Linked DNA regions of Homo sapiens: regions 1, 3, 4, 5, 6 and 7 are each reported to be linked to region 2. The links are microRNA targets in miRTarBase. Many come from high-throughput screens and were not tested one by one. Region 2 holds a microRNA gene; each other region holds the end of a gene's coding sequence. Distances are from middle to middle.

Region 1 (4,111 bases), not on the chromosome of region 2:
AATGACAATAAAAATAGTTATCTCCAAGAATGAATGTGAAGGTTAAATGAGACAGTGTATGTGAAAGTATTTGGTAAACTGCAAAAAGCTGTGTAAGTAGAAGTCTACCATGTCTTTTGATAATAATTCTGGTGGTAAGTGGGAAGGAAGTGTCACTCACTTCTCTCCTAAGTGTCCAACACTTAGAAGTGTTTCCTAACATTATGTGCTTTTACAATGTGATTAGTAATACTCAACATGAGTGAGCGACCACATGAATTTCTTCTGATGCTCCTTTGTAACCCCAGACTCGGAGTTTGCATCAGTCAGAGAAAAACTCCAGGGTCTCCCTGACTCATTGTGTTCTTTGTTAACTTTTTTTTTTCTTTTTTGAGATGGAGTCTCGCTCTGTTGCCCAGGCTGGAGTGCAGTGGTGCGATCTTGGCTCACCACAACCTCTGCCCCCTGGGTTCAAGCGATTCTCCTGCCTCAGCCTCCCGAGTAGCTGGGACTACAGGCACGCGCCACCATGCCTGGCTAATTTTTGTATTTTTAGTACAGACGGGGTTTCGCCATATTGGCCAGGCTGGTCTTGAACTCCTGACCTCGTGATCCGCCTGCCCCGGCCTCCCAAAATGCTGGGATTACAGGCATGAGCCACCACACCCGGCCCTTTGTTAACTTTTAACCATATTGCCATTTTAAGCAGGTGCACAGCACTGAACATTTGCCAGTGATGTTATTAACCACTGGTAACTTTACCAGCAGAATAGATAGCTGAGGTTGTGGATTTCTTGTATTCCGTACTTTCTGGAATGTCACTGTGACTTCTTTCTTAGGTACCAGGAGGACTTTAACCCGCTGGTGAGAGGATGTTCCTGTTACTGCTGTAAGAATCACACTCGGGCATACATCCACCATCTGCTGGTGACCAATGAGCTGCTGGCCGGAGTCCTGCTTATGATGCACAACTTTGAACACTACTTTGGGTTTTTCCATTACATCCGGGAAGCACTAAAAAGTGACAAACTGGCACAGTTGAAAGAGCTCATCCACAGGCAAGCATCTTGAGATCTTGCAAATACAAGTCTCACTCTTCACACTGAGCCTGTACCACTGTTGTAACATGGGAAGACGTGAAGAAGAAATAATCTGAGCTTTAATTATTTATATTTGGATATAAGGTCTGCTTAAATAAAGAATCTTTGTACCAAACTGCCCACATGAGGGTGAAGAGATTTCCTCAAAAGACTTAAATGACCTGGATTGATCAGAGAGAATTGAACTGTGACCTTTAAGACTTCTAGACTAATTCTTTTAGTTGATAGAGATTCATTTAGTCAAAGACAAAAGCTTTAACTGTGAGGGCACAGCCTTGAAGTGGGAGTGATGAGATTCTGAGGGACCCATGAATTGGATTGAGGCTTGAGGGGAAATGGTGTGAGACGAATGGGCTCTGGACATATGCCTGTTGATTTGAGAAGAAATCTGGCTGGTTTGAGGGTTTCCTTTAGTTCACCCTCATACTCTCAGGAGACTCTTCTGGATACTTTTGTCTTCCACCCTGCCCTGGCAGTGCAGCCAATCAGAAATGGCTCTTGTGACTTAACTGGGCTTGGATATCCCTGGAATGTGGGGCTTGAACATTGCTCCTGTGATGATCATCTGTCCCAGGTCACACTCCTTCATTTGACCACATGGCCTATTTGCAACTTCTTTTTAGAGCCAATGTAATTGCCTGTTAGGAGCCAGAAGTTTGCCCAGCTGCTTTCTTCTGGTTGTACAGATCCATTGTGGTCTGCCTTCCAGGCTCATTAATAGTCTAACTACGTAATAACTGAAGACCTATCTCTTGTGAAGATTCATTCTCAATGTGTTCACTTGGACAGAGCCCTGCCTGGCCTAACGATTAGAGGGTTAGTCTCCATCCTGCTCAGATATGACTCCTGGGCAATTCACTTAACTTCTCCATGGCTGCTTCCTGCTGAATAAATAGGGACAGGCATAATGGATAGGAATGAATGAACTTTTAAGATACTGTCTAGCTCTAAAATTGGAAGAACAAAAAGTTTTAGATTAGAGTCATAGCCTTAATAGCCCTAGTTGTCATCCTGGGAGACAGGCAACAGTAGAGATATTTGAGAGCCTAAAGAGAGGTTTGGCCTGTGGGTTTTTAAGTGGTTATTGAATTGGTATCAGGAGATCCTGAGGCTGGTAGGGGAAGGTAATTCTTTCTAAGTTACCTCTGTATTTTTCAAGTTTTCTATAAGGAATACACATACACCCACATGCACACACCATAGTTTTTATACAAACAGCAATAACAAAACCAAAAAGATGCCCCTTTTTTTGTAGGGATAAGAAATACATTTGTTTTATACTTCTATGCTATATTTTGCTATTCAAAATTTAGTGGGCATTACTTAACATTGTTTCTAATTATTTTGTGGCTGCTGTATGTTTTATGTGTTGGGAGCCCATTGTATTAGGCCGTTCTTGGATTGCTATAAAGAAATACCTGAGACTGGGTAATTTGGTTTTTTGGTTTTTTGGGGTTTTTTTTGAGACGGAGCCTTGCTCTGTCGCCCAGGCTGGAGTGCAGTGGCGCGATCTCGGCTCTATGCAACCTCCACCTCCTGGGTTCATGCCATTCTCCTGCCTCAGCCTCCCGAGTAGCTGGGACTACAGGCGCCCGCCACCATGCCTGGCTAATTTTTTATATTTTTAGTAGAGATGGGGTTTCACCGTATGAGCCAGGATGGTCTCGATCTCCTGACCTCATGATCCACAAGACTGGGTAATCTGTAAAGAAAAGAGGTTTAATTGGCTCATGGCTCTGCAGGCTTTACAGGAAGCATGGTACTGGCATCTGCTTGGTTTCTGGGGAGGCCTCCGGAAGCTTATAGTCATGACAGAAGGTGAAGGGGGAGCAGGCACATCACATGACAAAAGCAGGAACAAGACTCAGAGCAAGAAGTCACTTATCACCAAGGGGATGGCCCAGGCCATTCATGAGGGATCCACCTTTGTGCTCCAAACACCTCCCACCAGGCCCCACCTCCAGTATTGGGGATTACATTTCAACTTGAGGTTTGGGCGGGAACAAATAGTCAAATTATATTACCCATCTACATGGTTTTCTTTTTCTTAGTATGGGAGTGTCCATGAATAAATTCATGGGCATCCTCATAACTCTTCCATGAATGGCAAGGGGTACTTATGGAAAACAGTTTTCCAAAGATCTGATTGTTTTGAAATGTGTTAGATTGGACTTGTTCAAATGTTCATATTTTTGTTCTATGCTAAATGCATCGTTAGGGGAGTAGTGGTAAATATTCCAGAATCCATATGAAATTCATGAGTTTATTTATGTCTAAAACACTGAAAACTGTGTCCAATATCGTTCAGTTTCCTGGGTCTTTTTCTTATTAGCACATTTGAGAAAAATATTCCTTTCCTTTATTGTAGTAAATCTATTAAAGGCAATAGCCAATAAAACATTTTTAATTTTAAAAATTTACTGTGTTTGGCTTTCTGTAAATGTAGTAGGTCTGTTAAACAAAATATTAAATTTCCATAGTACCAGAAATGTTGTAGAGATTTCTCATTGGAAGAAAAAAATGTTTATCTGTATTCATTGTTTTGAGAGCTTCCATGATAAATGTAAAATCCAAAAAGATATTTAATTATATACATTATGAAGATTCCCTTATCTATCTTTATTAATCTGTTCTTGTGTTTCTATAAAGAAATACCAGAGGCTGGGTAATTTATAAGGGAAAGAGGTTTAGTTGGCTTACAGTTCTACAGGCTGTATAGGAAGCATGGCACCAGCATCTGCTCCTGGTGAGGGCTTCAGGAAGCTTACAATTGTGGTGGCAGGCAAAGGGGAAGCTGGTGTATCACATGGTGAGAGAATGAGGAGGTCCCAGACTCAAACAACCAGATCTCATGTGAACTGAGGGAGAATGCACTCATCACCAAGGAGATAGTGTTAAGCCATTCATGAGGGGTGTACCCAGATACCTCCCACCAGGCCCCACCTTCAACACTGGGGATTACATTTCACCATGAGATTTGGAGGGGACAAACATCCAAGCCATATCACTTACCTCTTTAAGTTATGTAATTA
Region 2 (4,111 bases):
CCAGTGGCTGGACTGCTGGGGCGTGGGGTGGGTGTGGTACAAGGTGTGGGTTTCAGACCGGCAGCCCCTGGAGGACCTGCATGGTTCCCCCCCAGGTCCCTCACAACATCAACTTCCGTGAGAAGAAGCCAAAGCCATCCAAGAAGAAAGCAGAAGGTGGCGGCGCAGAGGAGGGGGCTGGGGCCCGGGGCCGCGTGGCGCGTTTCCGCTACTTCGAGGATATTTATGGCTACTCAGGGGTAGGCCAGCGCCTTTGCAGGGGTCTGTGGTAGAAGGGAGACGCGGCCTCATCCGCAGCATCCTCATCCACAGCATCCTCACGGTGCCTGCCCCCAGGTCTTCATCTGCGGCCCCTCCCCTCACTGGCTCTTGGTGACCGGCCGAGGGGCTCTGCGGCTACACCCCATGGCCATCGACGGCCCGGTCGACTCTTTCGCTCCATTCCACAATGTCAACTGTCCCCGCGGCTTCCTGTACTTCAACAGACAGGTGGGGCCCGGCCGGTTCCCAGCAGCACTGGCTGATGCTGCCCCAGCTGGGGGCTGAGGGGGAGGGGACAGGAGAAGGGACCATTGGCTCCACCCTGAGGACCAGGAAGGAGTGTCCAGAGGGCGATGGGGTTGAGGTCGAGGAGGTGGAACCTGTGACTTGGTTGCTCCAAAGGTCTGGAAAGGGGTGGTTGGGAGCTGGGGCTGCAGCCCCTGGGGTCCCCACCACTGCTCTGCCGGCTCGCCGGGCAAGCCCTCGCAGGGCCTGGCCTCCACACTTCTCAGGAGAGCTGACGTGAGTGCTAGCTCTGCCCCTTGGCTGCTCTGTGACTTTGGGAGGGCACACAGGCTTTCTCATCCTGGTTCCCTATTTAAGCCACCACACCACCAGGTCACTTGAGACCCTGCCTGGGATGCGGTGAGTGCTTCCTGGGTGCCTGAGGACTCAGGACTGTCCATGAAAGAGGGCAGCCCTGGCTCCCTCTGCCTGGTTTTCAGTCCCCAGCATGGCAGTCTGTGGGCTGCCCTTTGCAGCCTCCAGTGCCCTCCTGGCCTAGCTTTCCCATCCCCTGTGGCCAGCACCCCTAGCCCCAGCTGAGCGTGGGAAAATGGACAGGAGGAGCCCCAGAGGCTGAGTGGCAGCCCCTTCCAGGACCTCGCCAGGACACAGCTGCCCCTCACCCACCCCTGCTCCCACAGAGCTGAGGGCAACATCCCAGGGCTCTTGGCGGCCTGGGCCTGCCTGCCCCTGCCCTTGGCTAGCCCTGGATCCCCTGACCCCTGTGCCCCCACCCCAGGGCGAGCTGAGGATCAGTGTCCTGCCTGCCTACCTGTCCTATGATGCCCCATGGCCTGTCAGGAAGATCCCGCTGCGCTGCACGGCCCACTATGTGGCTTACCACGTGGAGTCTAAGGTCTGCCCCCACCCCCACCCCACCAGGGACCTTCTGGGCCTGGCCGGGCCACTGGTGTGTGACCCTCACTAACCCACAGGTGTATGCTGTGGCCACCAGCACCAACACGCCGTGTGCCCGCATCCCACGCATGACTGGCGAGGAGAAGGAGTTTGAGACCATCGAGAGAGGTGGTGACGCCCACACCATACTCCCATCCTCAGCCGCATCTTGGGGAAGCCCTACTCTGACTGTCACCCTTGGTCCCCACAGATGAGCGGTACATCCACCCCCAGCAGGAGGCCTTCTCCATCCAGCTCATCTCCCCGGTCAGCTGGGAGGCTATTCCCAATGCCAGGTGAGGCTGGGCCGGCGGGGGTGGGGTCTGCCCAAGGCCTCCAGGCAGCATCCTGAGGCCCCTGGCCCCCACAGGATCGAGCTGCAGGAGTGGGAGCATGTGACCTGCATGAAGACAGTGTCTCTGCGCAGTGAGGAGACCGTGTCGGGCCTCAAAGGCTACGTGGCCGCCGGGACCTGCCTCATGCAGGGGGAGGAGGTCACGTGCCGAGGGCGGGTAAGGGGCCAGTGAGCGGGGGCGGGAACTGGCAGCCCCTCTGCCATCCCCACAGCCATCCCACAGCCATACCCATGCCCTCCAGATCTTGATCATGGATGTGATTGAGGTGGTGCCCGAGCCTGGCCAGCCCTTGACCAAGAACAAGTTCAAAGTCCTTTACGAGAAGGAGCAGAAGGGGCCCGTGACCGCCCTGTGCCACTGCAATGGCCACCTGGTGTCGGCCATCGGCCAGAAGGTGTGCCAGTCCCACCCGGCGTGTGTCCCCCGGCTCACCCTCACCCGGCTCCCCGTCCGCGCCCGCTCACCCTCGCCCTCGCCCCCAGATTTTCCTGTGGAGCCTGCGGGCCAGCGAGCTGACGGGCATGGCCTTCATCGACACGCAGCTCTACATACACCAGATGATCAGCGTCAAGAACTTCATCCTGGCAGCCGACGTCATGAAGAGCATTTCGCTGCTGCGCTACCAGGAGGAAAGCAAGACGCTGAGCCTGGTGTCGCGGGTACACCTGTGGCGGCGGTGCTCGTGTCTGGGTGGGTACCCGCCCAAGGCACCTCTGACGCCCCCTTCCCGCCCCCAGGATGCCAAGCCCCTGGAGGTGTACAGCGTGGACTTCATGGTGGACAATGCCCAGCTGGGTTTTCTGGGTATGTGGGCAGGGCCCTGGGGAGCTGAGGCTCTGGGGGTGGCCGGGGCTGACCCTGGGCCTCTGCTCCCCAGTGTCTGACCGCGACCGCAACCTCATGGTGTACATGTACCTGCCCGAAGGTGAGTGCTTCCTCCACCCCCTCTGCCTGGGCCGGGGCTGGGCTAGCAGTGACCCCTAGGCCTTTCTGGTCTAGCCAAGGAGAGTTTCGGGGGCATGCGCCTGCTGCGTCGGGCAGACTTCCACGTGGGTGCCCACGTGAACACGTTCTGGAGGACCCCGTGCCGGGGGGCCACTGAAGGGCTCAGCAAAAAGTCGGTCGTGTGGGAGAATAAGCACATCACGTGGTTTGGTGAGTGTGGGGGAGCAGGTGTGTCTGGGTGGGGGGCCCTAGGGTTGGCCTGGCTCACACCAAAACCCTCACCCTACCCCTGCCAGCCACCCTGGACGGCGGCATCGGGCTGCTGCTGCCCATGCAGGAGAAGACCTACCGGCGGCTGCTGATGCTGCAGAACGCGCTGACCACCATGCTGCCACACCACGCCGGCCTCAACCCCCGCGCCTTCCGGTGAGCCCCGGCCCCGCCCCCGTGCAGCACCCCCTCCACCCCAGCCTGCCCTGACACCTGTGCCTGTACGCCCCAGGATGCTGCACGTGGACCGCCGCACCCTCCAGAATGCCGTGCGCAACGTGCTGGATGGGGAGCTGCTCAACCGCTACCTGTACCTGAGCACCATGGAGCGCAGCGAGCTAGCCAAGAAGATCGGCACCACACCAGACATAGTGAGTGCGCGCCCCGCCCCCCGCGCGCCCCGCCCCTCCGTGTGCATCCCCACCCACCCACCCACCCACCCTTCCATCCCCTGCAGATCCTGGACGACTTGCTGGAGACGGACCGCGTCACCGCCCACTTCTAGCCCCGTGGATGCCGTCACCACCAGCACACGGAACTACCTCCCACCCCCTTTTTGTACAAAACACAAGGAAAAACATTTTTTGCTTGAGAGGAGTGTGTGGTCATTACACGGCCTCCTGGCCCAGCTGCTGTCACAGCCCCCCAGTGCGAGTGCCCACGGGGCTCGGGGTGTCTACACCTCTAGCCCCGCCACCTCCGTCAGCCCAAGGTGAAAAGGGCCCCGCCGGCCCTGGGCGGCTGCACCCTAGGTCTCCAGGTACTGGTAGAGCTCCTCCGCTGGGGGCACGAGGCTCAGGTGGACCAGAGCACGAGCCAGGAGGGCGGTCAGCCGCATGGCCAAGGTCTCCAGCCTGCGTGGGTCAGGTCACAGGTCACAGGTGGGTGGGGAGCAGGCCCCCGCCACCCACCTGCCCCGCGGCCACTCACCTGAGCGCCACTTCAAACTTGAGCATCTCCCAGACGACCTTGGCGTGGCGCAGGAGGCTGGTGCCGTAGACACCCCGATACGTGGCGCCCGCCAGGCGGCTCCAGCCCCGGACAGCCCTGCACACACCCGCGTTAGCGCCGCGTCAGCCCCACACCAGCCCCACCAC
Region 3 (4,111 bases), not on the chromosome of region 2:
TTTGGGAGGCTGAGGCAGGTGGATCACCTGAGGTCAGGAGTTTGAGACCAGCCTGGCCAACATGGTGAAACCCTGTCTCTACTAAAAATACAAAAAAATTAGCTGGGTGTGGTGGCGTGTGCTTGTAATCCCAGCCACTTGGGAGGCTGAAGCAGGAGAATCGCTTGAACTCGGGAGGCGGAGGTTGCAGTGAGCTGAGATGGTGCCATTGCATTCCAGCCTAGGCAACAAAAGTGAAAACTCCGTCTTAAAAAAAAAGAAAAAGAAAAAAAAAAACAACTATTGCTAAAAAACCAGGAAGGTGTGGGGAAGAAACAATCTTGATGAAGATAAAGTAGCTTCAGGCATCAACGCCCTTTAAAAGGCATAACTTTTGCTAGAAAAATTGGCAATATTTACATTAATATGTGGCATTTAAGTATTCAGAATAATTATCTTTCTTAATGTACTATTTCTAAAATCACCTCCCATAAATTGTCTTAGGGTCAATATCCAATTACCTTTTAAAAATATTTTTCTTGGCTATAGCATTTTTATGAAAAAACATTCAAGATTTAAAAATATAATCACTTGAAGCTCATTAAGGACTGCCAAAAATCTAATTTTATTTTTGCATCCTTTATAAATAAAAAGCAACCGATAACCACTTTCCTCTTAGATCCAACTTCAATGACCACATTCTCAGAACTACCAAAAGACTTCAAGTACACTGTCTGTAAGGAACAGTTTATAATTGCTGAATTTTACATTTTTGCTTAATATACAACATTTCTGCTTAATATATCAAGCATATTTTTGCTTAATATATTTTTGTAAACTATAGTTAACTCTTGGAATGTCTAAACTACCTTATTTTCTTCATTAATAAAAATGAGTAATTTAAAACTTCATGCACATGTAACATTTTACTATTATTATTTTTGAGACAAAGTCTTGCTCTGTCACCCAGGCTGGAGTGCAGTGGCACGATCTCGACTCACTGCAACCTCTGCCTCCTGGGTTCAAGTGATTCTCCTGCCTCGGCCTCCCAAATAGCTGAGATTACAGGCATGCACCACAATGCCCGGCTAATTTTTTGTATTTTTTTTTTTTTTTTTGAGAGGGAGTCTCGCTCTGTCGCCAGGCTGGAGTGCAGTGGCGTGATCTCGGCTCACTGCAACCTCCACCTCCTGGGTTCAAGTGATTCTCCTGCCTCAGCCTCCCTAGTAGTTGGGACTACAGGCATGCGCCACCACGCCCAGCTAATTTTTGTATTTTTAATAGAGACAGGGTTTCACCATGTTGGCCAGGATGGTCTCGATCTCTTGACCTTGTGATCCACCCGCCTCCACCTCCCAAAGTGCTGGGATTACAGGTGTGAGCCACCGCGCCCGGCTAATTTTTTGTATTTTTTGTATTTTTAGTTGAGATGGGGTTTCACCATGTAGACCAGGTTGGTTTTGAACTCCTGACCTCAAATGATCTACCTGTCTCAGCCTCCCAGAGTGCTGGGATTACACACATGAGCCACTGCGCCGGCATATGTAACATTTTAAATACCTGACTTCCTTAACATAAGGTAAGACAGTCTTAGGCAGGCTGCCACTGGGAATGTTTTTTTCTTTTTCTTTTTTAAATTAGAGACAGGGTCTCACTACATTGCCTAGATTGGTCTCAAACTCCTGGGCTCAAGCAATCTTCCTCTCTTGGCCTCCCAAAGTGTTGGGATTGCAGGTGTGCGCCACTAGGCCCAGCTTGAAAAATTTTTTAATGCATGTGGTAATCCACAGGAGATCACATTTAGTATATGACCAAGTTAATTAAGAAGTCAAAAAACACGTTAAATTTAAGCAGAATAAGGCTGGGTTCGGTGGCTCATGCCTGTGATCCCAGCACTTTGGGAGGCAGAGGTGGGCAGATCATTAGGCCAGGAGTTCGAGACCAGCCTGGACAACATGGCGAAAGTCTTTACTAAAAATACAAAAATCAGCTGGGCGTGGTGGTACACACCTGTGATCCCAGCTACTCAGGAGGCTTAGGCACATGATCGCTTGAACCTGGGAGATGGAAGCTGCAGTAAGCTGAGATCCTGCCACTGTACTCCAGCCTGGGTGACAGATCAAGACTCTAACTAAAAAACCCCCCAAAAAACAAATAGTTACTTGGAAAACTTCCGACATTTATTTACTTCTGGACAAACAAATGAGTGGGAAGAATCATCAGTATACACCTCTTAATTGTATTTTTTTTTTTTTTTGAGACAGAGTCTTGCTCTGTCGCCCAGGCTGGAGTACAGTGGTACGATCTCAGCTCACTGCAACCTTTGCCTCCCGGGTTCAGGTGATTCTCCTGCCTCAGCCTCCCGAGTAGCCGGGATTATAGGCATGGAGAACCACACCTGGCTAGTTTTTGTATTTTTAGTAGAGATGAAGTTTCACCATGTTGGCCTGGCTGGTCTCAAACTTCTGACCTCAAGTGATCTGCCCGCCTTGGTCTCCTAAAGTGTTGGGATTACAGGCGTGAGCCACCGTGCCTGGCCAATGTTAGTTTTTATCCTTAAAATTGCCTGAGTTCTTAGAACACAGAAAAAACAAATTTGAATGCATTTCTAACAGCTTAATAATTTATATGTCCCATTATGATTTTAGCGGAATGTTTTAAAGCAAAGCATAATTCACTGCAAAGATAAACCTGAAAAAGCAAACAAACTTACAAATGGTATGTTATGACCTAGACAAAACTGATTATCAACTAGTAATACTCATAATTAGCACATGCAACAGATTGAGAAATTAAATCCTGTGCTATATACTCTTAAGTATTTTGTCAGATATATCTTTAAATGTTCTATCAATTGCATTCCTTTCCACACATATTTTAAACAAGAAAACAATTGTCTTTCCTCCAGATTCTCATGTTTATCAGTGCAAAACGTTGCAATCTCAGTAAAAATGGTTTATTACAATGTTATTTTAGAAAGGCTTAGTCCTCAAACTGTTGAAAATGTACTTAAAAGATGTCCAAATCATGAGAATGATCAACTTCAATGGCTTCCTCTGCCTCCAACTTGGCTTCTGCATGTCCTTCCTGTGACTCATCAAGAGAGGCCAAGGCCTCATTCGTGTCACTTGCAAAAGTTTCTCGTGATGTATCATCATCTTCTTGAAAATTTAGACTTTTAATAGCTTGTTTCATCTTTTTCCCCAACACTTGTGTTCTCCTCTTCCTAGCAGCTTTTTTATTTTCATATTCCTTTTGGTTTTCAATGTAGAAAATGTCCTGTAATAAAGGAACAAAGTTAGTAAACAAGAACTACCACGTTATTAAAGGTTTATTCCATGACTGTCCCTTTAAAATCATTATCTCCATTTCTTACAAAAAATACAAGTATTATTAGGCTCATTATTAAGATGGAGTTCAAGATATTAAGTAAGTACTCATTGCAAGATTGAAACTGATTTAAACCCAGCCTAGTGTTAGGTTTAGGGCCCATGCTTATTCTACCTTAATGTATCATCTCTACAGTTAAAAATTTCCTAAATGAAGGCTGGGCATGGTGACTCATGCCTGTAATCCCAGCACTTTGGGAGGCGGAGGTGGGTGGTTCACTTGAGGTCAGGAGTTGCAGACCAGCCTGGCCAACATGGTGAAACCCTGTCTCTCCTAAAAATACAAAAAGTAGCCGGCTGTGGTGGCACACACCTGTAGTCTCAGCTACTAGGGAGGCTGAGGCAGGAGGATCATTTGAACCCAGGAGACAGAGGTTGCAGTGAGCCGAGACTGTGCCACTGCACTCCAGCCTGGGCAGCAGAGCGAGACTGTGTCTCAAAAAAAAAAAAAAAAAACCCAAAACCAAACCAAAACAAAAAGTCAAAAAGTTTTGGAGCATTTTGGATTTTCAGATTAGGGATTGTCAACCTGTACTAAAACAGAGACGGTTCAAAGGTTTAAAAAAGAAGCTAGTGTAGGCAGGACACACTTCTGGGACCCTATTATCTCCTGGGCAGGGATTCCAAAAAGCTCAAGCCAAGCCAGTCCCTGTTATATTCTTAAAGAATACAAATCCCAATCCCTTCTTGTTTATAAAAAGCACTATGGAAGATGGTGGGATGAAGGAGACTCTCTCCTAAAA
Region 4 (4,111 bases), not on the chromosome of region 2:
TCTCATGATGCTTCTGGTAGATTCCATCCATTTCTGAGGGATTTCCCCTGAGGTTAAAACTGCCTTGTTTTCCTGTGGCTTAGTTGTCATTATCATATGATGGTAGTATTTTCAACCATCTCCCTTATCCTCTGTCCTCTGTCCAGATGGTTCTGTCTGGGCCGACGGCACAGCTGTCATCCCGCAACTTCTCTTTATCCTGGGCTACAATCCAGTCCTGCCTCACACGTCCTTCTCTTTATTATTTTACTCCTTATTTGTGCAGTTGGTTGTTATGTGGACTTGTCTAGTTTTGGTAAACACCTACGGTCCTATAACCACCACCACTGTCTGGCACCGTGGCCCCACAGCTGGACGGCTGGAGCTGGCAGCTTTTAAACCCAACTCAGGTGGCTGTCCAAGCCACCCTATTTAAAATTGCATCTCAAAAAAAAACAAAAACAAAAAAAGAAGAAAGGCCAGGAACAGTGGCTCATGCCTGTAATCCCAGCACTTTGGGAGGCTGAGGCGGGCGGATCACCTGAGGTCGGGAGCTCGAGACCAGCCTGACCAACATGGAGAAACCCTGTGTCTACTAAAAATACAAAATTAGCTGGGCGTGGTGGCACATGCCTGTAATCTCAGCTACTCAGGAGGCTGAGGCAGGAGAATCACTTGAACCCGGGAGGCGGAGGTTGCGGTGAGCCAAGATCATACCATTGCACTCCAGCCTGGGCAACAAGAGTGAAACTCTGTCTCAAAAAAAAAAAAAAAAAAAATTGCATCTCACTTGGCTGGGCACAGTGGCTCACAACTGTAATCCCAGAATTTTGGGAGGCCAAAACAGGAGGATCACTTGAGCCCAGGAGGTTCAAAACCAGCAAGACTCCATCTCTACTAAAGAAAAAAAAAAAAAACAAAAAACAGCTGGGTATGGTGGCAAGCACTTGTAATCCTAGCTACTCAGAAGGCTGAGGCAGGAAGATCACTTGAGCCCAGGACATCAAGGCTGCAGTGAGTTGATTTTGCCACTGCACTCCAGCGTGGGCAACAGGGCAAGATCCCGTCTCCAAAAAAAAAAAAAAAAAAAAAAAAAAAAAAGGTCAGGCATGGTGGCTCACGCCTGTAATCCCAGCACTTTGGGAGGCTGAGGCAGGTGGATCACGAGGTCAGGAGATCGAGACCATCCTGGCTAACACAGTAAAACCCCGTCTCTACTAAAAATACAAAAAATTAGCCGGGCGTGGTGGTGGGCACCTGTAGTTCCAGCTATTCGGGAGGCTGAGGCAGGAGAATGGCGTGAACCTGGGAGGCGGAGCTTGCAGTGAGCCGAGATCATGCCACTGCACTCCAGCCTGGGCGACAGAGCGACACTCCGTCAAAGAAAAAAAAAAAAACATAAAAAGTAAAAATAAGATTCCATCTCACCTGGCCGGGCACAGTGGCTCATGCCTGTAATCCCAATACTTTGGGAGGCTGAGGGGTGAGGATCACTTGAGACCAGGAATTCAAGACCAGCCTGAACAACATAGCGGCAACCTATCTCAAAAAAAAAAAAAAAAAAAGCCTGGCATAGTAGAGTGCACTAATACACCCAGCTATTCAGGAGGCTGAGGTGGGAGGATCACTTGAGCCCAGGAGTTTGAGACTGCACTGAGCTGTGATCTTGCCACTGCACTCCAGCCTGGGCAACACAGCTACACTCTGTCTCAAAATAAATAAATAAATAAATTGCATGTCACCTTCTCCCCACCTGCATTACTTAACAGGCCTGGGAGTAAGACTTTGGTAGGTGCACCATGATGGGTGCCACAACCTCGACAGTATGCAATTGTCAGGTTTTGAAGGAGCTGGCTGCAGCTGAAACCGCCGGAGGGTTCTAAACAGTGAGGCAACATGATCCACCTTATATCATAACAGGATCTCTCTGCCTCCCACGCTGAGAACAGGCTGAAGAGAGCCAGGGCAGAAGCAGGGAGACTGGCATCCAGGCAGAGATAGACGATGGCACAGGAGAGCTGGGTGGGGGTGGTGGAAGGGAGGAGAATCTATCTACCTTGAATCTGTCTTGAAGGTAGAGCCACCGGGGTTTGCTGATGGGTCGGGTATGGCCCTGAACCTCCCCAAACCCTCTGGGACCCTGCAAGGAGTGGTCCTTTCTCCCACAATGGGGCTCCAGCTCATGCAGCATCCACAGGTCTACTGACCTGCCCCAAGGACAGAGCCCCACATGGATGGCATTTCCCCAACATTTAATCAGGAAAAAACATTCCATGAACAAAGAAAAACTCATGCAACTAAAGAGGAGAGAACGGGGGGTCTGGGACTGTCAGACAGGGCCAGATTCCTCAGAGGAGGCAGAAGACACAGAGTAGTAAGGCACGGCCGCCTTGGCCCCACAGGGCGGGCACTGGACGGAGCGGGCGCTGAATGGGGCGGCTGAAGGAGTCGGAGCAGGTGCAGACAACACTGAGGACGTTTGGCAGTAGGCTCAGGAGGAGGAGCGTTCTAGGGCCCCCAGGCCCAAGTCAGGCCCTGGCACAAGCCTGAGTCCAGCCCTCCAGGTGCTCAGAGAGAATAGGGCCCCGAGATGCTTGAGGGGGACCCTGTGGTCCAGCGTGGCACAGCCACAATTCTGAGGAAGCTTTGGAGGCCTCACCCCAAGTGCTGCTGGTACCGTGACCCCGCCTTGGAATGGGTGGGGTCAGCCATGGCAAGGGTGAGGTGCCAGAGGCCAGACCGAGGCTGATAATGCTACACAAAGGAGCCCAGACGGGTGGCAGGGCCCAGGACAGCTCAAGAAGAGGCAGGTGAGTGAGGGTGGCGACATCCGGTGGGGGGACACATATTTACAGATGGAGACAGAGGCGAAGTTCGATTCAATAAATAGGCAGAGGGATATAAATAGCAGGGAGGGTGGGACTGTCCCAACACCTGGGCACAGGGCAGGAGGGTGGGGGTATTGCTGCTGCTGGGGTGGGGGCTCGCCCTGTCACCCCTCCCCCTGCAGGGCCCAAAGCAAGGCACTAATGAAGGGGGCCTGGGTGTGCCGGGGGCATCGTGGCCAGGGTGACCTGCCCCACGATACCCAATCCAGGGCTCAGCCCGGGGACCCAGGCTTGAGCCAGCCACTCCCCTGGATGGGAGGACGGCACAGGACTGAGAAGCCCCCTCCTCACCGATTCCACCACCTTAGCTGTCGCTGGACACGAGGCTGATGATCTGTTCCAGTTTCTGCCGCAACTTATGCTTCCGACAAGAGGCATCTCGGTCCAGAGCCGTGAGAATCTGGGGGAGAGGAGTCCCCTGGAGCTGGGCTCTGTAGGGGGCGCAGCTCCTGCCATGCAAAGTCCCCACTTCCCAGCTGGGCTCCTCCCTCCCACACGCCTCATCCCTCCGTCCTCCCCCGCAGCCCCTGTACAAACCCACCAGCTCTCCCCAGCCCCAAATGCCCCTCCGACGACAGCACTTTCTCCTCCTCCTCTCCACAGCTAGGGTGCGGCCTGTCCCTAGAGTGACCTGGACTCTGGACTCGCCGTGCTGGATTCCCCCTCCCATTACCTCCTAGCCCAAGCCTCCCTCGCGCCAGGACCCCGTGACCCTCGCCAGACCCAGTGAGTGTTCTGCAGGTCACCATCCTTCACCAGCAGCAGCACTGGAAGATGGAGCCGGCCACTGCCACTCCCTGACCTGTGAGGGGTCCTCACTGGCTCAGGTTGCCAGACCCCACCAGGCGCTCTCAGGCATCCTCCCCGCTGGCTGCTGCACCTCCCCTCCCCTCCCCTCTTTGTGTCCTGGGGCCCTGGGCTCAGTGTTTGGGCCGCTTCTCCCTCCACACCCACTTGTGGCTTCCCTGTGAGCTCATCCAGGCTCAGGGCTTTAAATGCCATCCACAGGCTTGCAAATGTGTCCAGCCCAGACTCCATCCTAAAGTCCACACCTCTATGTCCTCCTGCCTCTGGCTATTTCTCATCACAAAGCCTGACCCATCCCTTCCAGTGCTCAGGCCCTTTAACTTTTGCCCAGTGGCCACTTTGTACCCAGCCAGTGGCTTATCTCCTGGGTCCCTCAAATTCCAGCATCTACCTGTGATCCCAGAGAGCATCACCTGTGCCGGCCCCAGGCCCTGGTC
Region 5 (4,111 bases), not on the chromosome of region 2:
TAAAGACTGTGGGAAGGCTTTTCGATGGGGCTCAAGCCTCGTTATTCATAAGAGGATTCATACTGGTGAAAAACCCTATGAATGTAAAGACTGTGGAAAGGCCTTTCGGCGTGGTGATGAGCTCACTCAGCACCAGAGATTCCACACTGGGGAGAAAGACTACGAATGCAAAGACTGTGGGAAGACCTTTAGCCGTGTGTATAAACTTATTCAGCACAAGAGAATTCATAGTGGGGAGAAGCCTTACGAGTGTAAAGACTGTGGGAAGGCTTTTATTTGTGGTTCAAGCCTCATTCAGCATAAAAGAATTCACACAGGTGAGAAACCCTATGAATGTCAAGAATGTGGGAAGGCCTTTACTCGAGTCAATTACCTTACTCAGCATCAGAAGATCCACACCGGTGAGAAGCCTCACGAATGTAAGGAGTGTGGGAAGGCCTTTCGCTGGGGTTCGAGCCTCGTTAAGCACGAGAGGATACATACGGGCGAGAAGCCGTACAAGTGCACAGAATGTGGGAAGGCCTTCAATTGTGGCTATCACCTCACTCAGCACGAGAGAATCCACACAGGCGAAACCCCGTATAAATGTAAGGAGTGTGGGAAGGCTTTCATTTATGGATCGAGCCTCGTGAAACATGAGAGAATTCATACCGGGGTGAAACCCTATGGGTGTACAGAATGTGGGAAGAGCTTTAGTCACGGCCATCAGCTTACACAACATCAGAAAACGCACAGTGGGGCGAAATCCTACGAATGTAAGGAGTGCGGGAAGGCATGTAACCACCTAAACCATCTCCGAGAACATCAGAGGATCCACAACAGTTGAAGAGCCTTTTGAACGCAGTAGCCCGCTCGTATCTATGGTTTCGCTTTCCACAGTTTGTTACCTGCAGTCAACTGCAGTTCAAAAATATTAAATGGAAAATTCCAGAAATAAAGAATTTTAAGTCTCAAATGGTGTGCCCTTCTGAGTAGCGTGATGAAATCTCTCGCTGTCCGGCTCCAGCCGGCCGGGGATGTGAGTCATCCCTTGGTCCAGCACATCCACGCTGTATACGCCACCCACCCTGCTAGTGACTTAGTAGCCGTCTTGGTGATCAGATCAACTATCCCAGCATCACAGTGCCTGTGCCCAAGCAGTCCTCACTTTGCTTAACAGTGGCCCCAGAGAGCAGGAGTAGTGATGCTGGTGATTCGGATATGCCAAAGAGAAGCCACAAAGTGCTTCCTTTTAAATGAAAAGGTGAAAGTTCTCAACTTAAAAAAGAAAAGAAAAAAATCATATACTGAGGTTGCTAAGATCTACATGACAATAAGATATTTTGGGAGAGAGATACGTTCACATAATTTTATTACATATATTGTTACAATTGTTCTATTTTGTTAGTTACTGTTGGTAATCTCTTACTGTGCCTAATTTATAAATTAAACTTTAGATATGTATGTACAGGAAAAAATGTAGTATATAGTATCGTATATATGTACAGGAAAAAAACGTACTATCTGTGGTTTCAGGTGTCCACTGCGGGTCTTCAAACGTACCCCCCTCAGGTGAGAGGGGACTGCTGTACAAAGAATATAGGAAGGCCTCTAGACTACATCCATTCCTTCCTCAACAGGAGGAAAATTCCTGGTACAGTTTAACGTAAGGCTTCACTGATCACTGTTGTTTTTGTTTTTGTTTTTGTTTTTTTGAGACAGAGTCTCACTCTTGCCCAGGCTGGAGTGCAGTGGCACGGTCTTGGCTCACTGCAACCTCCACCTCCCAGGTTCCAGCAATTCTCCTGCCTCAGCCTCCCCAGTAGCTGGGATTACAGACATGCACCACCACACCTGGCTAATTTTTGTATTTTTAGTAGAGACAGTTTTCACCATGTTGTCCAGGCTGGTCTCAACTCCTGACCTCAGGTGATCCACCCACCTTGCCCTCCCAAAGTGCTAGGATTACAGGCGTGAGCCACTGCACCTAGCCCACTGATCACTCTTCTGCTTACAGAATATCAGAAGTCATTCTAGAGGCAAATTTGAAGAGTGGAAAAATCACTTTTTCTGAATGATCTTGTTTTTGGTGTAGATGTTTTTATTGTGTGGGTTAGTTTAATGAATACATAAAGACTACCAGTACCATTCTGTCTTTACTCCGTGGCATCTGTGGAATAACCCTGCTAATGTAACACGTGAGAAAGCCTTTGGTCATGCCACCCACTCTACCAGTTGTCCCCACCATCCCCCGCCCTCCTCCCTGTGAGACACTGGGCCAAAGGCTCACTACCCCTGTGCGTTGTCCAGCACACAGACACTATGTGCATTATTTGTACATAAGGATAATCACATCTACCTGAGACTGCTATCATGGAAATTAAATGTTTGGTACATGTAAAGTCTTTGAAAGTGTAACTGGAATATTGTGTAATTTTAATAAATAATAACTATTGTTGTTTTTATGATCATTACTACCATTTGTGTTGCCATTAGTGAATTTTTACAAGAAAACTCCCTGTGGGTGCAATGAGTCTGGAAAAGACCATTGAGTCTTCTAGAAGAAAACATTAAGAGATTATTGGCACAGCCGTGGGTTACGCAATGATTTCTTAGTACACAAAACACAGCAAACATAAAAAGTTGTTACACTTCATCAAAAGTACAAAGTTCTGTTCATCAAATGATGCTGTTAAGATAGGGAAAAGACAAGAAACAGGACTGGAAGAAGATGTTTGCTCTAAGGTACACCTGACAAAGGAACTCTCATAGAAAATATAAAGAATCCCTCAAGTTGAAAAAAAAATCAATTTAAAGGGGAGAAAACTTCAGCACGTCTCAACAGAAGACCACCAAATGGCCAATAAGTAAGTGAAAATGTATTCAATGTCATTGCTCCTCAAGGAACTGTAGAGTAAAACCACAATGTGCTGTCACTCTAGACAGTCACCAGGATGATTAAATTTAAATCACAATAACAAGGCTGATTTCAGATGTCTCACCACAAAGAAGGAGGATAAGGGAGCGAGGTGATGGATATGTTAATTAGCTTGATTTAATCCTTCCACATTGTATACATGTATCAGAACATCACATTGTACTCCATCAATATAATACAATTATTATTTGTCAATCAAATATTAATAAAATCAAAGATGAGCAGGTCTCTTTGTTGGATATTCAAACACGACCTATTCAAGAAGGAACCCCGCCAGCAGACTGGACCTCTGCTAAACCCTAGCGGTGCCCACAGCAGGGACAGCGCGGGAGGGAGGTGAGCGGACTGGTCCTGGGGACGGGGTCAGGGCCCAGAGTAGAGTTGTTACAGGAAAGGGGTGCCAATCCAGACCCCAGGAGAGAGTTCTTGGATCTCACACAAGAAAGAATTCAGGACAAGTCCTCAGTGCAAAGCAAAAGCAACTTTATTAAGAAAGTAAAGTGGTGGGACCAGGTGCGGTGGCTCACGCCTGTAATCCCAGCACTTTGGGAGGCCGAGGTGGGTAGATCACCTGAGGTCGGGAGTTCAAGACCAGCCTGGCCAACATGGCAAGACCCCATCTCTACTATAAATACAAAATTAGCCAGGTGTGTGGGCACACATCTGCAGTCCAGCTACTCGAGAGGCTGAGCCAGGAGAATCACTTGAACCCGGGAGGCAGAGGTTGCAGTGAGCTGAGATCACACCACTGCACTCCAGCCTGGGCGACAGAGGGAGGCTCCATCTCAAAAACAGAAAAAGTGGCGAAAGGACAGCTACTCCACAGACAGTGTTGGACGCTCCTGACGTTAGGAGGAACGCATCCACCCTAGGTCCAATGCTCACATATATGGGGAGACGTGCTCTGCTACAAGGGTTTGTGATGAAGGATTCATTCTCTTCATTATTTTGCAAGAATTGATATTATCTTTAAAGCAAAACTAGGAATGCCTTTGTTCTCCAGATATCAGGATATCTGGACACTCCCAAGTGTGGGTCTGTTTAGTAACTGTTAATAATTTGTTCCCTTAACCGTAAACATCTGGAGGCTCGGAATTGCCTACATTTCTCAGAATGCAGCCCAGCAAGTCTCAGCCTCATTTTCCTAGCCCGCACTCAAAATGGAGTCGCTCTGGTTCAAACACCTCTGACAGA
Region 6 (3,940 bases), 120 Mb from region 2:
TCAGAGAATGAGATCAGGACTTCACCACCCAGTCGCGAAGTTACAAAAGTATTTCACTTCGGTTAGACCATTTGTTCCAGGCTGAGCTACAACAGTGTGTAAAATACGTCTGTCCTTTATGAAGTCACAACACAGTGGGGGAGAAAAGGTCACATGCTCAAGGCAACAACAGAAGTCTGTGCAAGAACAGAGGTGGTGTGGTCCAGACAGCAAACCACTCCGAGGTGAGGGAGTGCTTGCGGAGGGCTTCCAGTGGAGGTGATGTCTCAGTGGGGTTCAAAGGGCAAGTAGAAATGGGACAGAGTTGGATGGTGGAGGAAGAGCATGTCAGAGGCCAGCACGCATAGGGCCACACGGAGCCATGAGACAGTCTGATGAGATGGTGAGGACAAGGCATCGCAAGCTCTGCCAAGGGGCCTGGGTGGCCGTGTGGCCCCCTCCAAGCACCCATCCTAGGAGGGAGGGCAAGTGAAGCCCCCACCCCAGTGAAATCTCCCTCACCACCCCACGACTTCAGGCCTCTCCCCAACTCTTGTTTTCTTTTACTCCGTTTTGTTTTGCCATTCATCATATGCCCTTCTGGGTTTGTTATTTTTTTTTTTTTTCTGGAGATGGAGTCTTGCTATGTCACCCAGGCTAGAGTGCAGTGGTGCAATCTCGGCTCACTGCAACATCTGCCTCCCGGGCTCAAGCGATTCTTGTGCCTCAGCCTCCCAAGTAGCTTGGATTACAGGCACGCGCCACCATGCCCGGCTAATTTTTGTTTTTTTTAGTAGAGACAGGTTTTCACCATGTTGGCCAGCTGGTCTCGAACTCCTGACCTCAGGTGATCCATCCGCCTCAGCCTCCCAAAGTGCTGGGATTACAAGGGTGAGCCACTGTGCCCGGCGCCCCTCTGGTTTTGTTCTCTTGGTTTGGGTACATGGATCCTGCCAGCCCGCCTCTATCAACGCAACTCCCAGGCAGAGGTGCATCAGGAGTCAGGGTCCCCGACTCACAAGCAGCACAATGGTACACAAGTTGTTGTGGCTCTCCAAGCCTCGGTTTTTCATCTGTAAAATGGGTATAGCCCTGTGGGTGCAGTGGCTCATGCCTGTAATCCCAGCACTTTCAGAGTTCAAGGCAGATGGATCACTTGAGCCCCAGAATTCAAGAACAGCTTGGGCAACATAGTGAGACCCCGTCTTTACCAAAAAAATATGGTAATTAGCCAGGTGTGATGGAGAGTGCCCGCAGTCCAAGCTACTCAGGAGGCTGAGGTGGGAGGATCCCTTAAGTCCGGGAGTTCGAGGCTGCAGTGTACTATGATCATTCCACTGTATTCTAGCATGGGTGATTCAGTGAGAACCTGTTTTAAAAAATGGATATAGTCCCTATTTGACAGGCTTGTTGGGAGGATTCAAGGAAATCATCTCTGTAAAATGCCCAGCACAAGGTCAGGCACACAACAAATATTCCATACATGTTAGTCTCCATGTCCTTGCCTCCCAGGCAGGAATCATCTCCTTCACTCTGGTACTGCTTAGTGATTAAGTGCACAGACTCTGGAGCCAGACTGCCTGATTCCAAGCCCTTCTGCTATGTACTAGCTATGTGACCTTGGGCAAATCACTTGCCCTCTCTGTGCCTGTTTTCCTGTTTGGAAAATGGAGACTGTAAGACTAGTGTGTACCCACCCCCCAAAGATCGTTATGAGAATTAAATTAATATATGCCAGGGGCTTAGAGCAGCGTCTGCGTGGGCAGCCACACTCTGGGCGCCAGCCGTTACTACTGCCTGCATCCCTGCAGTGTCTGGCAACATGTCTGGTACCTGCTCGAGGCTCAATAAAGATTCATTTTTGAATGAATTAATGAAGCGATAAGACAACCCCACGATGCAAAGGCAGGCCATGTTGGACGCCAGTGAGCCCCTATACGTGAGAAGCTAAATCACCGCAGCAGATTAAGAGCCTCCCCCAAATAAAACCTGGATAATCCCCACACCAAGAGTTAATCCACACTCTCTGGGGCCACTCCAGGTTACCACCCCATTTCCCCTCTTCTCATCCCACACTCTCACCCACCTCTTTGCTTAATCAATCAAAAGCAGGGAGGAGGAGCAGGTGCAGCAGTGGCAGAGGGGCGCACCCCGGGCATCATGGTGAGACCAGCACCGGGGCAGTAGAGGGCAGAGCTGGGTACCCCGGTTGCCCCAGGGATCGGAGGAGTTGGAGTGGAGCCAGCCAGGCAAACAGCCTTGGTCTCAGGAGAGCAGAGACTCCTTGGATGGGGCAGGCCAAGGACCAGTGACCACAAGCAGCAGGGAGGGCCACTGAGTTCCGCCAGGCCCAGCAGGGCGAGGCTCTGGCCAGTCTCCCAACCCCACCCTCCTTGACCTGGAAGCCGGGGGCAGCCCAGATCCCAGACACTGCTGCCCTCTCGTGGCCACTCCTCAGAGGTGCAATGGTGCCCCTGCGGGTACCTGACTGTTTACAGAACTTAATGTCCCCAGAGCTGCCCCAGGGGGCTCCTTCTTCCAGGCTCCTGGAGGAGATACTCCTCCCCAGGTCTCCTCTGCCTAGCTTCGACCTCCCTATGGGACTAACGTGCTGCCCCAAGCCCCTCCTGCCTGTGCTCCCACTGGTTTCTCTATAGCTGCACCTTCCTGCCAAGGCCTAACTGAAGTTTCGGGTTCTGACCAGTCCTCTGGACTCGTCCCCACTTTCCCATCAGTGCTCTCAAAACTCCCCAAAAGCTCCTTCGTGAAACCATGTGCTGCATCACAACTCTCTGTCAATGGTTCTGTCTCCCCCAGAGGACTGGGCTCCTTCAGCCTTAGACCTAGGCTAGGACTGGGCTGTCCCATTTCAAGGGTGTGAGGCGAGCAACGGGAGTAAGAATCAGGAGAAACAGAGCCCCTTTATGTATTTATTTATCAAAACACTCGCAAACCTGACCTCACTCACCAACACACACACACACAACCAGGACACATGTGCCAGGCCTTATGAAAGGCTATCAAGTACTTTGAAGGACAGGAAGGAATGAACACACCCAGGTGGACGTTTGGTTTCATTTGCAGGGGTTCAGGGAGGGTTGCAGGGGTTCAGGGAGGGCTCTTGTCCCACAACCGGGGAAGGGAGAGGGCAGAGCAAGGCAATAAATAGAACCCTGGGCCCAGCCTGCTTTGGTACATTGTGGGTGCATCCCTGCATGTGGCCTTGGCAGCATCTGCTCCCGGCCCTTAACCATCAGCAGGAGTCAGGAGGGTGGGGCCCAGGCAGCTGGTGCAGGCAGGCCAGATGTGCAGCCCAAGGTCCCTCCAAATAGCCCTGGAGCCCTGCAGGGCACGAGGTAAGAAGGGGGCAGATGCAGCAGACCCTAGCTGTCCACGTCTGAGGGCACAGTCTTTTTCCTCGTCCGAACCTTCAGGGAGCGCGAGGTGCCCTGGGGAAAGGGGAGGCACAGCATGAGGGTGTGGGGAGCACCAGCCAGCAGAGCCCTCCTCCCTCCTGTCGTCCTCCCACACTGACCTCCCGCACCGGTGGCTTCCTCTTGACCACACGCAGGCTCTGGCTGCGGATTAGGGGCTTCTCTCGGGGCCGGGCTGGCGCCCGGGGGACTGCCTCAGTATCTGACCAACACTCATCCTCGGTGTCGCTGTCCTGCAGGCCCCCGGCCCGGTACCCTGTGTGGAGGAGGAGGTGAAGCTGAAAGCCTGCGACCAGGCCAGCCCTTCCTCGAGCCTTGGGGGAAGCCATGGTGTGAGTGAAGGAAGCCATCCCTCCTGGCATGGCTCTGGGCCCCTCTGCCCGCTCACCAATGGGTGGCCTCCGGTGGGACACCTGGTCCTCCAGGTAGAGGGGGTCATGGTAGGCAGGGGCAGGTGCGTCAGAGATGGAGCGCAGGTCCTGCATGGAGAAGCTCCGCAGCCTGCCGGCCAGCGCCCCCTGACTCTG
Region 7 (4,111 bases), 100 Mb from region 2:
AAAAAGTTCCCTCTTGGCTGGGCGCAGTGGCTCACGCCTGTAATCCCAGAACTTTGGGAGGCCAAGGAGAGTGGATCACCTGAGGTCAGGAGTTGGAGACCAGCCTGACCAACATGGTGAAACCCAGTCTCTACTAAATACAAAAAATTAGCTGGGTGTGGTGGTGCATGCCTGTAATCTCAGCTACTTGGAGGCTGAGGCAGAAGAATCACTTGAACCCGGGAGGTAGAGGTTGCAGTGGAGCTGAGATTGTGCCATTGCACTCCAGCATGGGCAACAAGAGTGAAACTCCGTGTTTAAAAAAAAAAAAAAAGTTCCCTAACTGGTGGGTGGAAAGTCTCATGTTTGAGTAAAAAAGGCTGTCTGAGAACCACAATGAAGATACTGCCCAGCCTGAGAGCAGTATGGCCCCAGCCCCATGGCTGCCTAAAGCCCTTGAGGTCACCCTCAAGTGGGTTAGTTCCACTAGCCCTGATGTTTTAGAGAAGCAATGGATTCAAAGCTGACTTCCCGTATTTCCAAACCCAGAAGACTTCAGAGATCAAAGCCAAAGTTTGAACTATGGGCTTAAAAACAGAGAATTCAGAGGTGGACGAGGTCTCTGAGGTCATCTAGCCAAGTCCCTAGTTATGACTCAGGAGACGGATGCAGAGAAGTGAAGGTGCAGCAGGCTTGGAGGGGGGTTAGCAGCTGACCAGCACTTTCCACTCATTACACCACTGGGTGTCATTCCCAGCTCAGCCCCACCCTTGCTGGGGTAACAGGAGGGAACACATTATTTTGTACTTTGCATGTTTCTAAGTGTCTTGAGTTTTTGCCCCATAAGACCAACTCGGTTACCCCAAACCAGATACTCTGACTATGGGTCACTTGGGGCTTGCAGGACCCCTAATTTAAAAGGATGGAGCAGTCGCCTGGATGATGGTAAAAGGCATACACGGAAAGGGGAGGTTACGTTTCTGCAGGCGTGAATCAGTGCTCTCCTCACTGCCCGGCCCGCACAGGACTTCCCTCCACAGCACTGACTCCACGTGACTTCACACCAGGTGCGGCCACACCTGCCGGCAGGGGCCGCAGACAGCTGTGCTGAATGTGAGACAAAAGCAAAACCTGTGTGTGTGTGTATATATAAATACCTATGCAAATCACGAAAGTAACAAACCATAAAGTTTCAGATGAACTTTTTAAAAGAGAACCTGATCTTTTAAGACCAATTACTGATCCCTCCAGTTGGTTTACAAACACTGTAAACATCACCTATAAAAGCTGAAAATCACTTTTTATTCTTAAGCATTTTGTAAAACAGTTCCTAAGAGACTTATTAGTCATAACACTGACTTTATTTTTTCAGTCTTCATTTGAGAGCAAAAAGATTTCCCCCGGGCTGGCAACAGGGCAGGTGAGGAAATGGGAGGCTCTCCCAGGGAGGTCACAGGTAGGTGCAGAGAAAAGGAGATTGCAGGGCCAACCCAGCAGGTACCACATGCAAAGTGGATCTGTCTGCAGCCCCAGGAGCACAGCTTCACTCCCACCCACTCCCTGAACTGCAGGCCAGAGGGCGACCTTGGGGACGTGACACTCAGCACCACAGGCACAAAATCCTGAGAGGCATCATGACTGTGCCACGAGGGAGCATGGGTCCCAAGTGAGGGCTGGTGGGGCATGAATGGGGAGCTGAGGAGCATGAAACTGGTGAAACCCCAGAACCCACAGGGGCTGCTTGGCCTTGGCTCTGCCTCCACTGTGACTGTACAGCAGGCACCAGTGGCCGACTCTTTTCCTGTGGTGCCTGCTCTGGCTGTGCAGAAGCTGCCATGCAGCACATGCCCTGCCCACCCTGCCCCTCTGCAGCCCTCCCCTGTCCCTCCCCTGCAGAAGCCACCATGCAGCACAGGCCCTGCCCCGCCCCGGCCCCTCTGCAGCCCTCCCCGGGCCCTTGCTCCTCCCCCACCCTGGAGTTTACTCATTGCTTCCCCTAGGCCTCACATCAGCGACCCGCACACACCCCGTCTCTGGAGAAATCCACGTCTGTGCTGGAAATTCTAAATTAACCAAAGATCTGCAAGCATCTGAGACGAGCTGTTCACCTTCTGAGCTGCAGGGTTCCTCGCTCCAGCAGTCAGTTGGCTTCTCCGCAGCCCCAGGGCCATGCTCCCAGAAGAGAACGGGAATCCTCACGAGAAGCCTGCTACTCAGGGCCACAGCCAGGGGAGAAAGTAAAGGGAGAAGTCCCCCAGTTCATTCACCAGCCAGTTTTATTTACTCACAAGAACAAATCCAAAGCCCAGTGCAGCAGCTCTGAGCTCAGGCCTGCCGTGCCCCGTTTTGTGGGCCTGTACTTGAAACACTGAACGTGATGTGTCCTTCACTCACCCGCAGCACTTTAATCCCCACAACAGCCCTGTGAGGTAGGAATCACCACCATTCCCCCCGACTCATATTACAGATGGGGAAACCGAGACACACATTCAACAAAGCGCGCATCACATGGGGAGTTCAGGGTTAGCCTGGAGTACGAACACACGTTCTCCCCATGGCCCAGTCAGCGGCCCACCTGGCCTCTTCCCCTCCCTTTAGTAACCCCATCAGCAGCAGCATAAAAATCTAACCCTTCATTTTGCTGAAAGCCCCTGCAGATGACAGTTTCCTTCCTATCATGTCTGCAGAGCTCCAAGGCTGGGGGCGATGTTGAGGCCGAAGCCAGCCACAGTGCCTCAGCTGTGCCTTTCCTGGAGAGCGGGTGGCCGCCCCCAGCACATCCCTGGCACACGGGCTTGCATAACAGACTCTTGTACCGCCATCTCTAGCACAAGACCATGGCCACATCTCCCCAACCACTCAGCCCGCACAGCGTGCAAAGGTGGGGAGTTCACTTTAATGGCATTCCTCCAACGACTTATTGTAAAAGAAACAAGGCATCTCGTCCTGGGTCGCAACACCCAGCAGCATCCGTTTAGACCACCAAGGGTAGGCTGCGCCGGGTGCACAGGGATCCCGCTGCGGCTCGGCGAAAGCCGGAGTCCTGGGATCCAGAGCAGCCCGGGGAGCCCTGGAGTCTGGAAAGGACACAGCAGTGGGGGCGGCGGCGGCAACTCCAGCTCTGAGCCCGTTGGCACCCCGCACGGTGGCCCCAGCCAGCTGGAGGCAGGCTCAGGAGCGGCTCCTGTCCTTGTGGTTCCCCACGATCATCTTGCTGTACAGCTTCTGCTGCTCCTCCTTGAACGTGTCCTTCACCTTCTCCCTCTTCAGGCCCCCATCCCTGGAGAGACAAAGGCTGGATGTAGTAACAGCCAAGAGGGCTCCCAGCCACGCTCACACCATGGGAGATGCACCATGCTGCCCAAACACCAAGAAAAACCTGCCAGAAACAGGGTACCCCGTGGCACTCTCACCAAGACAACCTCAGGGGATTTGGGGCTCCGGGATCCCAATATCCACCCTTTCTATCTCAAAAGGTCTACCCTTGCCCTTGGGTGAGAATTTACTACTCACATTCAAGGTACTTGATAACTGCTTAAACCTACCAAGGAGTTTACAATTCTTTCTACTCTAACATTCATCTTCACCTCACAAAGGAAAAGGAGGAATTCTGGCATTATGGAAGGTAGACATGCTTTAAGAAATATCGACTCATAACGTATCTGTAAAATCTATCTGTAAAATGTCATTTGTTTAATTCAGACCCAGGGATACTCTGAACTCATGCAGAGAGCTAACACAAGGGGTAACGCGTGTTCTGACTTCTTCCATGCTCAAAAAAAGAGTGCCGTCAGGAATGGAGGTTTACCTCCGGGGCTGCCTCTCAGAGTTCCAGCCTCACTGCCCCCGTGCCTCCCTGCAGCAGCCCCAAACCAACCCACCAGACTTGGGATTGTTTCATTACAGTCCCATTGCCTCTTGCCTGCTGGCCCCCTCCGTGCCTACACTCTAGAATTATCACCACCTTCAACAACTTATAAAAATCCAAGCCCGCTTTCAGTCTCTCCGCTACACCCTTTAAAATCCATAGCAAAGGCATAGATTTTAAAAGCAGCCACTCTGTCTTTGTTAAACTTCAGAGATGGGAACATGGGGCAGAAGTTAAACCTTCAAGCTCTAAAAGTCTGTGAGA

Evidence for each region. The annotated mature microRNA hsa-miR-939-3p reads CCCUGGGCCUCUGCUCCCCAG and lies in region 2 at 2,656-2,676, shown strand. An mRNA with a match to its seed (bases 2 to 7 or 8) in the 3' UTR can be bound and repressed. Matches are read on the target gene's strand: a 7mer-m8 pairs with bases 2 to 8, a 7mer-A1 pairs with bases 2 to 7 and ends in A, and an 8mer does both.
Region 1: miRTarBase lists QTRT2 as a target of hsa-miR-939-3p. Seed matches in the 3' UTR shown: 7mer-m8 at 2,564-2,570 and 7mer-m8 at 2,978-2,984.
Region 3: the mRNA of PHAX is a reported target of hsa-miR-939-3p. Seed matches in the 3' UTR shown: 8mer at 1,660-1,667, 7mer-A1 at 1,168-1,174 and 7mer-A1 at 994-1,000.
Region 4: miRTarBase lists PLXNA3 as a target of hsa-miR-939-3p. Seed matches in the 3' UTR shown: 7mer-m8 at 2,913-2,919, 7mer-m8 at 1,663-1,669, 7mer-m8 at 1,334-1,340, 7mer-m8 at 710-716 and 8mer at 198-205.
Region 5: the mRNA of ZNF331 is a reported target of hsa-miR-939-3p. Seed matches in the 3' UTR shown: 7mer-m8 at 1,714-1,720.
Region 6: miRTarBase lists REEP4 as a target of hsa-miR-939-3p. Seed matches in the 3' UTR shown: 7mer-m8 at 3,152-3,158.
Region 7: miRTarBase lists GPAT4 as a target of hsa-miR-939-3p. Seed matches in the 3' UTR shown: 7mer-A1 at 3,021-3,027 and 7mer-A1 at 2,924-2,930.

What each region holds. Positions count from the first base shown.
Region 1 is chr3:114,084,855-114,088,965 of GRCh38, forward strand. It overlaps QTRT2 (queuine tRNA-ribosyltransferase accessory subunit 2), which reads left to right. Exons shown (of 10, transcript NM_024638.4): 10 at 819-3,568. The coding sequence ends at 1,050. Among named protein-coding and RNA genes, the nearest start is that of QTRT2, 30 kb to the left of the region's middle.
Region 2 is chr8:144,392,726-144,396,836 of GRCh38, reverse strand. It overlaps MIR939 (microRNA 939), which reads left to right and starts at 2,607; the gene lies at 2,607-2,688. CPSF1 (cleavage and polyadenylation specific factor 1) reads left to right here. Exons shown (of 38, transcript NM_013291.3): 25 at 96-239; 26 at 337-489; 27 at 1,286-1,402; 28 at 1,482-1,572; 29 at 1,655-1,739; 30 at 1,814-1,955; 31 at 2,041-2,193; 32 at 2,282-2,458; 33 at 2,537-2,603; 34 at 2,677-2,724; 35 at 2,799-2,954; 36 at 3,041-3,170; 37 at 3,247-3,385; 38 at 3,472-3,606. The coding sequence ends at 3,519. It overlaps ADCK5 (aarF domain containing kinase 5), which reads right to left. Exons shown (of 15, transcript NM_174922.5): 14 at 3,945-4,061; 15 at 3,595-3,868. The coding sequence ends at 3,763. RefSeq lists silencers at 929-1,142, 2,495-2,656.
Region 3 is chr5:126,623,722-126,627,832 of GRCh38, reverse strand. PHAX (phosphorylated adaptor for RNA export) reads right to left here. Exons shown (of 5, transcript NM_032177.4): 5 at 581-3,258. The coding sequence ends at 2,989. Among named protein-coding and RNA genes, the nearest start is that of SPMIP10, 5.9 kb to the left of the region's middle. RefSeq lists a silencer at 2,830-3,030.
Region 4 is chrX:154,471,746-154,475,856 of GRCh38, reverse strand. It overlaps PLXNA3 (plexin A3), which reads right to left. Exons shown (of 33, transcript NM_017514.5): 33 at 1-3,267. The coding sequence ends at 3,172. Among named protein-coding and RNA genes, the nearest start is that of LAGE3, 5.5 kb to the left of the region's middle. RefSeq lists an enhancer at 3,357-3,651.
Region 5 is chr19:53,577,127-53,581,237 of GRCh38, forward strand. ZNF331 (zinc finger protein 331) reads left to right here. Exons shown (of 6, transcript NM_001079906.2): 6 at 1-3,143. The coding sequence ends at 826. Among named protein-coding and RNA genes, the nearest start is that of ZNF331, 41 kb to the left of the region's middle. RefSeq lists an enhancer at 1-929.
Region 6 is chr8:22,135,125-22,139,064 of GRCh38, forward strand. It overlaps REEP4 (receptor accessory protein 4), which reads right to left. Exons shown (of 8, transcript NM_025232.4): 6 at 3,802-3,937; 7 at 3,515-3,669; 8 at 2,896-3,428. The coding sequence ends at 3,363. Among named protein-coding and RNA genes, the nearest start is that of REEP4, 4.8 kb to the right of the region's middle.
Region 7 is chr8:41,620,041-41,624,151 of GRCh38, reverse strand. GPAT4 (glycerol-3-phosphate acyltransferase 4) reads right to left here. Exons shown (of 13, transcript NM_178819.4): 13 at 1-3,259. The coding sequence ends at 3,151. Among named protein-coding and RNA genes, the nearest start is that of NKX6-3, 29 kb to the left of the region's middle. RefSeq lists an enhancer at 1,052-1,151.